2 separate regions of the Homo sapiens genome follow, and region 1 is linked to region 2. Evidence: fine-mapped expression QTL. A gene starts in region 2. The other region holds a variant in brackets. All regions are shown on one strand. Distances are between the middles of the regions. Region 1 overlaps FKTN (fukutin). Region 2 holds the start of FKTN (fukutin).

Evidence for each region. PIP is the estimated chance that this variant, and not a neighbour inherited with it, causes the effect.
Region 1: its variant is the best candidate, but not a certain one, in a credible set for the expression of FKTN in whole blood (TOPMed, PIP 0.89).

The regions. Positions count from the first base shown.
Region 1 is chr9:105,592,721-105,598,107 of GRCh38, forward strand. It overlaps FKTN (fukutin), which reads left to right. Exons shown (of 11, transcript NM_001079802.2): 4 at 3,878-3,937. Among named protein-coding and RNA genes, the nearest start is that of FKTN-AS1, 37 kb to the left of the region's middle. RefSeq lists an enhancer at 385-924. The variant T/C (reference allele first, on the strand shown) is at 2,511.
Region 2 is chr9:105,555,003-105,560,389 of GRCh38, forward strand. FKTN (fukutin) reads left to right here and starts at 3,129. Exons shown (of 11, transcript NM_001079802.2): 1 at 3,129-3,163. It overlaps FKTN-AS1 (FKTN antisense RNA 1), which reads right to left and starts at 3,304. Exons shown (of 3, transcript NR_184141.1): 1 at 2,768-3,304; 2 at 2,112-2,173. RefSeq lists enhancers at 2,990-3,039, 3,200-3,389.

The DNA of each region.
Region 1 (5,387 bases), 38 kb after region 2:
AGGGCACAATGCAGCCAGGTTGTTTGCTAAGGCATAACAAAAGTGACTTTTTGCTTCACCTCCCAATACATTCCTGATTTCCATCTGAGACTTCCTTAGCCTGGGCTTCATTGTCCATATCACTATAAGCATCTTGATCACAACCATTCAACAAGTCTCTAGGAAGTTTCAAATTTTCCCTCATCTTCCTGTCTTCTTCTGAGCCCTCCAAACTTTCCCTTTGCCTATTACCCAGTTCCAAAGTTACTTCCACATTTTCAGACACCTTACAGCAACACTGCTTTCCTGGTACCAATTTTCTGTAGTTAGTCTGTTCTCGAATTGCTATAAAGAAACACCTAAGACTGGGTAATTTATAAAGGAAAGTTTAATTGTCTCATTGTTCTAGAGGCTGTACAGGAAGCATGATACTGGCATCTGCTTGGCTTCTGTGGAGGCCTCAGGAAACTTAGAATCATGGCAGAAGGTGAAGGCGGAACCAGCACTTCATATGGCTGGAGCAGGAAGAAGAGAGAGAGGGAGGAGGTGCTACAGTCTTTTAAACAGTTAGATCTCAGGATAACTCACTCACTCATTATCACAAGAACAGCACCAAAGGGATGGTGCTAAATCCGTCACGAGAAACTGTTTACATGATACAGTCACCTCCCACCAGGTACTGCCTCCAACACTGGGGATTACAATTCAGTATGAGATTTGGTGGGGCACAGATCCAAAGCACATCAGGTGCCTATTTGACATTCAAATGAAGAAGGTGAATAGACAATTGGCTATATAAGTCTGGGTAGAGTGGGTTGGGAGTACAAATGGAGTGTTGTAAGCATATAGATGGTGTCTAAAGCCATATGACTAGATGAGATACTAAGGAAGTGAATATAGATTTTTAAAGGGGGAGAAAGAAAGTGCCAACATCTGAGGTTTGGGACCCTCCAACACATCAGGGAAGTAGGAAGAACTGACAAGTTAAAGAAGCAGCCAGAGAGAAACAGAGAAAAAACAGAAATATGGTGATACAGAGAGCTAAGTGAATGAAGTGTTTCAGTGAGGCAGAGGTTGTCAACAATTCTTGGTATATCAAATAAGATAAGTATTGATAATTGACCGTTGGATTTAGCAATGTTCAGGTCATTGGTGATCTTGATGATGCTCAGCAGAGTGAATTTAAAATGAAGTGAGTTCATGGGAGGAGAGGAATTGGAGGCAATGAGAAGAGACAACCCATTAGGAGTTTTGCTGTAATGGGGGACAGAAAGTTGTTCTTTGGGAAAAGAGGAGTTGAGAAGTTTTTGTGTTTTGTTTTAATTATTAGTGTTTTAAGATGGAATAAATAATAGTCATGTTTGTATACTGATGGGAATGATCCATCAGAGAAAGAAAAATTGCTGGAGCAATGTCTTTGTCCAGTCAAGGGGGGATGGGATTTAGTGCATAAGTGGAGAGGCTGGCCTTAGATAGGAACATAGACAATTCATCTGTTATGACAGAAGGGAAGGTGTATTATATGGATATAATTCTTGTACAGTAGGTGGGAAGATGTGGTGGGGGTTTTTGAAAATTATTTTCAAATTTCTTTTTTCTCAGTGAAATAGAAAGCAATGCCATAAGTTGAAAGATAGGATAGGGAGGTGTTAGAAAAAAGGGGGAAAAGTCATCTAGGAGAATGAGACAGTTAATACACAAGGGGAATGTAGTATGATTTCTGGGCAGAATTAAAGCCCCACTTGGGATTAGTAGTCATGAATTTAAATTGACATCAGCCAGATATGGTGTCTCACACCTGGAATCCCAGCACTTTGGGAGGCGGAAGCAAGTGGATCACTTGAGATCAGCCTAGGCAATATGGTGACAACCTGTCTTTATGAAAAATACAAAAATTAGCCAGGTGTGGTAGTGCATGCCTCTATAGTTTCAGCTGCTAGGAAGACTGAGGTAGGAGTATCACTTGAGTCTGGGAGGTTGAGGCTGCAGTGAGCCGTGATCACGCCACTGCACTCCAGCCTGGGCAACAGAGACCCCTGTCTCATTAATAATAGTAATAATAATAAAGTGATATCAGTCAGCAGCCACATTAGCTGCACAGTTGCAGGTGCAGAATAAGTAGAAAGTTGGCCTTTGCTGAGCAAATAAAATGAAGTCAGATGGAGGAAAGTTGTCAGTGTATACAAGAGAATGATTGTGAAACATGAATATTTCCGATTGCATTTTTCATAATAGCCAAAAGCTGGAAATAACCTAAATGTTCATCAACTAATGAATGAATATACAATGGAATATTAGCCATAAAAGGAAATGAAGTACTGATACATGCCACAGCATGAATGAACTTTGAAAACATCATGCTTAGTGAAAAACCAGATGTAAAAGGCCACATATATGATTCCATTTTTATGTAGTGTCCATAATGGGCAAATCCACAGAGAAGATAATTAGTGTTATGATTGGGGCTGAGTGGAGGAGGAAAGGGGAGTGGCTGTTAATAGGAACATAGTTTCTTTTTGGAGTGATTAAAA[T/C]ATTCTGGAATTAGATAGTGGTAATAGTTGCACAACTCTAAACATACTAAAAATCACTTTAGAAAGGCAGATTTTATGGTATGTGAATTATATCTCAATAAAGCTATATAAAAATAACATGCTAGCTCACTAGAAATTTGCTTATCCCAAACTCAACAAATTGAACAGCTCAGAAATATAGCTGAGCTGTATTTGTAATCAACTAATGTAGGACTAAGGTGAACAAGTAGCTGTATTACAATGTTTGCAGTCTCTTTTCAGGTTTCAAGATTACAGTTGTTTTTTTCTCAGACATCCCTTAGTATTAAAATGTTATTGGCTAAGTTGCAGAGCTTGTGAGGAGAGACCAATTCTGGCTCAGTCTTAATTACTTAGTATCTTCATCTCTCCATCCCTTCCTCTCCCCTTCCAATTAACAAACCTTTACTAAGCTATAAAAATCATCAAGCACTATCCTAGGTGCTACTGGTTATACAAAGATGGATTGGACTTTGTCCCTCCCCTTGAATGTGAGGTTTAATGGGGAAATGAGGTTTAGGAACTTGGAGCACATTTCATTTTTAGGGTGAGACTACTCTAATCGTTCTTCAGCATCCTCCCATCTATAGCTTATAGATAACGTATGCACTCAAGGCATAAGAAACTTATTTGGATCTTCATTACGCTTGAAACATTCTTCCTTTTGTCTCTAGAACATCAGACATTCTTTCTCCTCTTACTCTAAAGTATTTTGGGGCTACCAGATGAAAACTCATAATAATTTTCTTCTGATGCTCTAGACCTGAAATATCTTTTATAAAAACTTCAACATTCAAAATTACGATGTATGTTAGGCAAAGCGTGCATACTGGTGCTATCTGCAAAACAAATAATAATGTTTACCTTGCAGGATTGTTGTGAGGGATCAATGAGTATACATAATTGATATATGGAAGTGTCAAACACACGAGCTCTTCAATAAACATTAGTATACTTTATCACTTTGCCAAAGTCTACAAACACTAATTTTATATATGGCAATATGTTGAGATTGCAGATATAGACATAGACCTTAACAGACAAACCCTAATTCCAAAGAGTTTGCCATTCATTGATGGAAATTAATTGGTTCAGAGATGTTGACCATGTCTACCTTATTATTTAATAACTTAATTAACTTACTACAAATCTATCGATGTTTTCCATCTTGGATTTTTATATCATAAAAATGTAGAATTCTTAGCTCATGACTATATGAAAAATAGATATTTGATAATGCTTTTTAATGATTATAAGCTAATTATATTTTGAATCTCATGCCTAACTGAAATGTAATGTTGCATGCTGGACTTTGAATTTACTAAAAAGTTCTTTTGTTGTCTTCCTAGAATGGAGCTGGTTTGTCAAAATCCAAAGGAAGCCGAATTGGATTTGATAGCACACAGTGGGTATGTAGAATAAACAAGAAATTTCTCAATTATAATGTTCATTTAGTTCATTCATTTACTCCGTAAGTATTTGTTGAATGATGGCAATAATAATAGCTACCTTGTGTGGTGGGTGGCCGGTTGGTAGTGGCAGGTAAGGGACAGGCCCTTTACCAAGTGCTTTATGCAATGTCTTATTTAGTCCCTATAGAAAGTTTAAGAAGTGAGTAAATATTGTTACTCTCAATTCACTTAGAGAGATTAAACTTAGTTGGCTGATAATTTGGTAAGACCAGATTCTGTCTGCCTCTAAAACCCACATTCACTGAGCTATGGTGTTTCCCTAAATGAATGAATATATGAATCAGATTTATTTGAATAAGGGAAAAGTAATGATCAGGAATAAAAATCTATTCAACCTATTCCTTTATAAGATGAGGGGAAACCAGCAATATATACAATATATCCTTGTTTTGTTTTAGAAATTTCAGAACCTACACATTGATAAAATATATTTTCCTATGTTTTAAAACTAAATTTAGAAAGAAAAACATTGCTGGGTTACTAATAAAACACAACATTTATTCTGTTAGCATACATTATGGGAATGACCAGATATTTCTTGATACACTTCAATCTTTGGCTTCTCTATAACTAGAGATGTGGAACACTTTAAATTAGAAGTGGATTTTCAGATCACCAAGCAGTGGTCATTTTAGATCATTGCTAACACCAAGTAGATTTTGAACTACTGTTTAAAAGTAAAGTCTGGGATATCCTATTATCAGGCTCCCCAGCTCTCTAGTCTATAAGTGTCAATGTAAACTTTTAATTTATTAAAAATAGCAATTGTTTTGCTCTGTGAATTTAGGGTATTCTGAGGATAAAGGTAAGCATGATATACTTGGAAGTTATACTACCCAGTCACAGTTATAAAGATTTTAGATTAAATTAAAAAGAGGTATTTTGTATGCTTCTCTGTAACACTTCTCTACCTCCATCCCACCCTTAGGAAACACATACACCTAATACTTGGACCTGATTTATCATCTTGTGGTTGAAGTAATTTGCTGAGATTTAAAATTCAGTATTTTAACAGCCAAAGGCAACAGGGGTGATCTTTCATACATTTTAACATTATAAGATGTGATGATACTTAGAGAAACATATATTTTTCAGATTTGCCATTTATTAGGAGTCTTCATCTGTACACTGTAAAGCAATTTCAGCAAAAAATTTAAAGCCGTAGTAGCTTCAGTTGGATAAAAGGTTTTCCTTTATCGGTATTAACCAACAACATTCTGACAACATTCCCAAACCTTTTAGTAAATAGAGAGAGCAGTCAGAGAAAGTACAGGTTCACTGATACATTTTAAAATGGAATTTGTGAAAAATTTAAAGCTTAAAATAATAGAAAAAAGTAGCGTGACTCTATCCTTTTCATTCAAGAAATGATCCTTGAGGTGGGAGA
Region 2 (5,387 bases):
AGTTGTCCACATGCATGCATGATAGGCCCCTGTGGCAGGCTTAAGCTAGAAGTAAAAAGAGACCCAGGGGATCAGGGAAGGGCAGGCCAACCTAGTATCACTTTCTAGTACACTTCTGAAGAATCTGCGAATCGCATATTTGAACCTAGATTTCTGTTCCTTGAGAATACATGTTAAAGTAGAAGAGTATAACATTTTATTTGTTGGTTAACGCTCAGCTATTTAGACACTGAAAATATGTCAGGGTTGGCTTTCATTTGTATTCTTGGCCCAGACCCTACAAATGTTAGGAGTCGGCCAGGATCCTTACATGTGTGCACAGCTGAGTGGTTTATAGAACATGAATATTTACTTGTAAGAGAGGCTGTTTTTATGCATCCTTGTACCCACTCTTTCAGCTGTATTTGCTATCCAGATTAAAGCATACTGACTTGACGTTTGCCATGAGCTGAGGGCTCACATTTGACCTTTCAGTATGCTTGATAAGTAACACTGCCACCAGTTTAGTTGTATATTTACCTTCAGTTATGTTTGTTCCCAAACCTGCTTATGTAGGTGGTAGTCACTGTTGTAGTCATGTAAGTATGTAAACCAATTATATAAATATATAAACCAAAATAAATATGAAATGAGTATGAAAAGGTACTTATAAGAAAAGTACGAGAACCATTAGAGATGAAGAGTTTAAAAAGTTGCAAAGTTAGTTGTGGCCAAAGTAATTGTGAGTGATAGGGGAAGATTTTTAAAAATAAATTCCAGGACTCCAAATTTATATTCCTTCACTTGTATCTTTAAGTTCCTGGTCCATTTTACAGAAACAGAAACTACAAATGATGGATGATGCATTATGTCTATGGTTTTGTAAGAAAAACAGTGAGATACTCTAATCAGCTGGTCCATGCTTAAAATGAACTTAGTTCAAAACAGAAGATTGGCCATTGTAACCCTCTACTGAAACTGCCTTTTTGAGAAGGTTTATTCAGAACTAGATTTGTTATACACTTGGAAAGTATTTATTTCTAAGAACCTGATAATTTTTCCCTTTTCCTGTTACTTTTAATTATAATTTCCAAATATACAGAAAAGTAGAAAGCCAGTGCTTTGTGCTCATCACCTAATCAATTGTTAACATTTTGCCATGTTTGTGCTATCTATTTTGTTTTAAAATGTCACCTGTAAGTATGCTATATGCATCCATGATGGCTTTTAAAAACAGCCACATTCTGTTAACATTCTTAGCAAAATTAACAGTAATTCTGTACTATTATCTAATGGATCAGTCCATACTAAAATTTCAGTTGTCTCAGAAGTATCTTTTTACAGTTATCTTGTTCAAATCAAGATCTAGACAGGGTCCACACATTGTACTCCGTTACATCTCTTAAATATTTGATTTTACAATAGTTCCCTCTGCTTTTAAATGCCATTTATGAAAAAAACTGAGGAATTTGTCTGGTAGAATGTCCCGTTTTCTGAATTTAGTTGCTTCTCTATATCCTGTATTAGATCTAGAGTTTGAGTAAATGCAGGTTCAATTTTTAGGCAAGAATCCTTCACAGGTGTGGCTGTGTACTTTCTATCACATCAGGAAGTACATAATATATGCTTGTCCCAAATTTAGTGAGATTAAGATCAGTGGGTTTAGGTGATGCCAGTCTATTATAAAGTTCCCCATCAACCTTTCACCTTAATTTTATCATCTATTGATGTTGCCCTTTCGATTATTTTATTAGGAGTTACAAAATCGTGATTGTTTTATCATCCTCCATTTATTAGCTGGAACTCTTATAAGTACTTTGGTTACACTAAAATTCAATTCATACAAGAAAGGCAGGATAAATGCTTGATGTTTTCCCTTATCAAGTTTTAGAATATTTAATCTTCAACTTGGCAATCTTCAATCACGACTGAATTTTATTTTTTAAGGAGTCATTATAAACTCAAGAATTTTTATATTTGATGTGTTTCAATCAATAGCAAGTATGTGATGCTCAAGTTTTCCCATGTCCCATCACGTTAGCACCTGTGTTAATGATGCCATTAAGCTTTGATAACTTACTTCCTCTTGGTGTAACCTTCCACTTTTTTTTATTAACCTACTGAGTACCTACCCGTTCTGAGTGCATTGGATGAGAGGACTTCAACAGTAAGCTTGTATGTGCATAGGAAATTTCTGGAAGGAAAAACAAAAAGTTGGTAAATGTCATAACCTGTAGGAAGTGAGGAAGATTTTTTCTTCCTTTTCTTTCTGTACTGATAGAATTAAAAACAAAGCTTAGAAAACAAATATATGATGGGAGTATTTTCCGTTTTGTAGAAATAAATTATAATTACAGTAACTGGTTTAGTGAATTATGGTTTTCAAAAATTTATAAGAAGATTAATATCTGAGCCTTAACAACCACCTTTTGGATTACACCGTTAAAAGAACCAAAGTGAGAGGATCGCTTGAGGCCAAGAGTTCGAGACCAGCCTGGGCAAGATGGTGAGGACGCCCTCCCCCCCACCCCCGCCACACCCCGCCCTGCTAGCCCCCAACGTCTCTACAAAAAAAGAAAAGAAAAAAGTTAATCAGGTACAAAATTGTATCCAGCCTTAAACTGGAGGGCAACAGGTCGCTAAATCTTGAATGTCATAAAGGCACCTCAACTTCATGAGGAATAGTGAACGCAGCTGCTATTTTCCACTCTATCCCCTAGCTCTACTAATTGTATCCAAACCAAACTTCAGGGAGTTATGCTGAATCCCTCTAGCAAAGCACACGCACTAAAAAAACCACTCGTTTATCAGAAGTTCACATTTAACGGGCTTGGAAAACGGCTCAGCTGCTGCCTCCAGTTCATCTTCCGCTGTCGAAAGCGTTTCAGAACTTAAACTCTCAGATTGCCTCAGTGCGCTGCTGTAGTTGTCAATTAGGCAAGAGATAAAAAAGGGCTTTGGCTAAGTGGCTAGATTATAAAAGCGAGGAATCGCCAGGGCTCAGTGAACTTCTGGCGGTGAGGATGCGACAAGAGTCACAGGAAAGCCGAGGCTGGGGCTGGACCGTGGGAACGTCCCAGCAGGAACCAAGCCAGCCTCCGCCGCTCAGCACTTGACGGCGGCTTTTGCGGCGGTTGCTGTGAGTGCCGTAAAGCGGAGCGGCTGCAGCCTGCTGTTGAGTGAGGTAAGGTACGGGAGGCTCAGGTCGGTACCCGGGGATGGGTGGGCGCCTTCAGACAGGTACCGCTGGCGACTCGGGTGCCCTTACCGGGCATCCTCCAGCATTCTGGGCACCTGCCTACCCCTTGGTGAGGAGGCCGGCCACAGGCTGAGCGCGCTCCGGGCTGGGTACTCCTCAGTCAGTCCACGAGCATCGCGTGGTAGACTTCCACTTGGCCAGTCCTTCCCGCACTTCTGGGCGTGTCATCAGGTGAAATCTTAATCCTGGGACAGATGAAAGGTTGGAGGACGATCGAGACTCTTGTAGTAGCCGGGTTAGGGTAGTGACCCCTGACCTCAGGTTATCCGCCCGCGTTGGCCTCTCAAAGTGCTGAGATTACAGCCGTGAGCCACCGCGCCCGGCCTGAAATTTACAATTTCTCATTTAACATGAGGTAAGCCACATTTCTCTTGGCTTCAGTTTTGTCAGATGTGGAAAAAAAAAAAAAAGGACCTAGATGATATATCAGATTCTTTATGCTTTTGAAGATAGCACGTTTCCAGTCGGTAAAAATCAAGCTGTGAACAAATGACAAAGTGAATGATAGAGCAGTATATTAGAAATTGGGCAGATGGAAGCCCAGTAGAAAAGGCTGTGTTTGAGCTAGACTCTGAGGATAAATAGGGTTTGAACGATTGGAAACCATCTCTGTTGGGCCATGGACAAAGATATCAAATGCAGGAATAAGCATTTATATTTTAGCGATTCTATTTGTGGACATAAGTTTAGTGAGGGTAGAGGATTTGGGAAGGCTGGCATTGAACGGTGAAAGAACTCTTAGTGGAAAGGAAGTGCAGGGTGTTCTGACAAGGAAGAAGAAAGGAACCGGGGAAATGCCGAAAGAACAATACGCAGGACTTGATTTCTTGGATCTGGGTGATGATATTTTTAACCTGCGTTTCTAAAAAGTAAGTTTAAGTGCTGTTGGCAAAAATGGGAATTCTGTTGAATTCCAGCATGCAATAGTGTACTGGGAATAAAGTGATTTAGATCGTAGAGTGCTGAGGTTGCCAATAACTAGCCTCTTGGCTGTCATTTAATTCTTCTAGAGCCTATTCTCCATAAGGTGATGTTGGGCCAGCTGATCTCTCTTCTCTAAAGCCTGTAAAACTAGAGACTGTGAGGATGGAGAGCTAGTTACTTTCTTCTGGACTGGGAGAGGACGATAGTTGACAGAGAATAAAATTGTTAATTTTGGGGCTGGACGCGGTGGCTCACGCCTGTAATCCCAGCACTTTGGGAGGCTGAGGCGGGTGGATCACCTGAGGCCAAGGAGTTCGAAACCAGCCTGGCCAACATGGTGAAACCCTATCTCTACTAAAAATACAACAAATTAGCCGGGTGTGGTGGCGGGCGCCTGTAATCCCAGCTACTCCTGAGGCTGAGGCAGGAGAATCGCTTGAACTTGGGAGGCAGAGGTTGCAGTGAGCCAAGATCAGGCCACTGCACTCCGGCCTGGGCAACAAGAGCGAAACTCTGTCTCAAAAAAAAAAAAAAGTTAATTTTGAACATGTTAAATTTGAGGTGAGGTGCAGGAAATAGAGTTGAAAATATAGGCAGATAGAGTGCATGGACTGTAATTTAAATAGTGTTTTCTCTCACAGGTGGTAGTTAAAATCTTGAGAATGGATTTGGTTTCAGGGAGAGATTGTAGAGAGAGTAACTATAGGCCATACCCACAGAGAGGAGGTTGGAGAAATTATTGAAGGAGGCATGTGGATCTCAGAGCTAAGAGCAAGGAAGGAGTTCTTTTTAAAAAAGTTACATATAGTTGTAGATTCTCAGGGGCCCAGTGTTGTTATTAAGCTAATTTAACAGCATTTACAGCAAATAATAAGCACCTACTTCTGGGAATTCTGGCAGAAAATAAATAATTCAAATAGATATAATCTCCACTGCCTAATTGTCTACCCAGAAGTGGTATCATTTACATATTTATTTATTCAACAAATATTTATATGTTTCAAGCACTGCTGGTTCTAGGGATATAACGACGAGCAAGGTAGACATTGTTCTTATCCTCCCTGCATGTAAAGCCCTTAGCATCTACATCAGTGCTTTTCAAATTTTAATGTACATATGAATCATCTGAGGATTTTATTAAAATGTAGATTATGAATCAGTAGGTGGGGGCTGAAAATTCTGTATTACTAACAAGCTCCAATGTGATACTGATGTTCTTAGGACC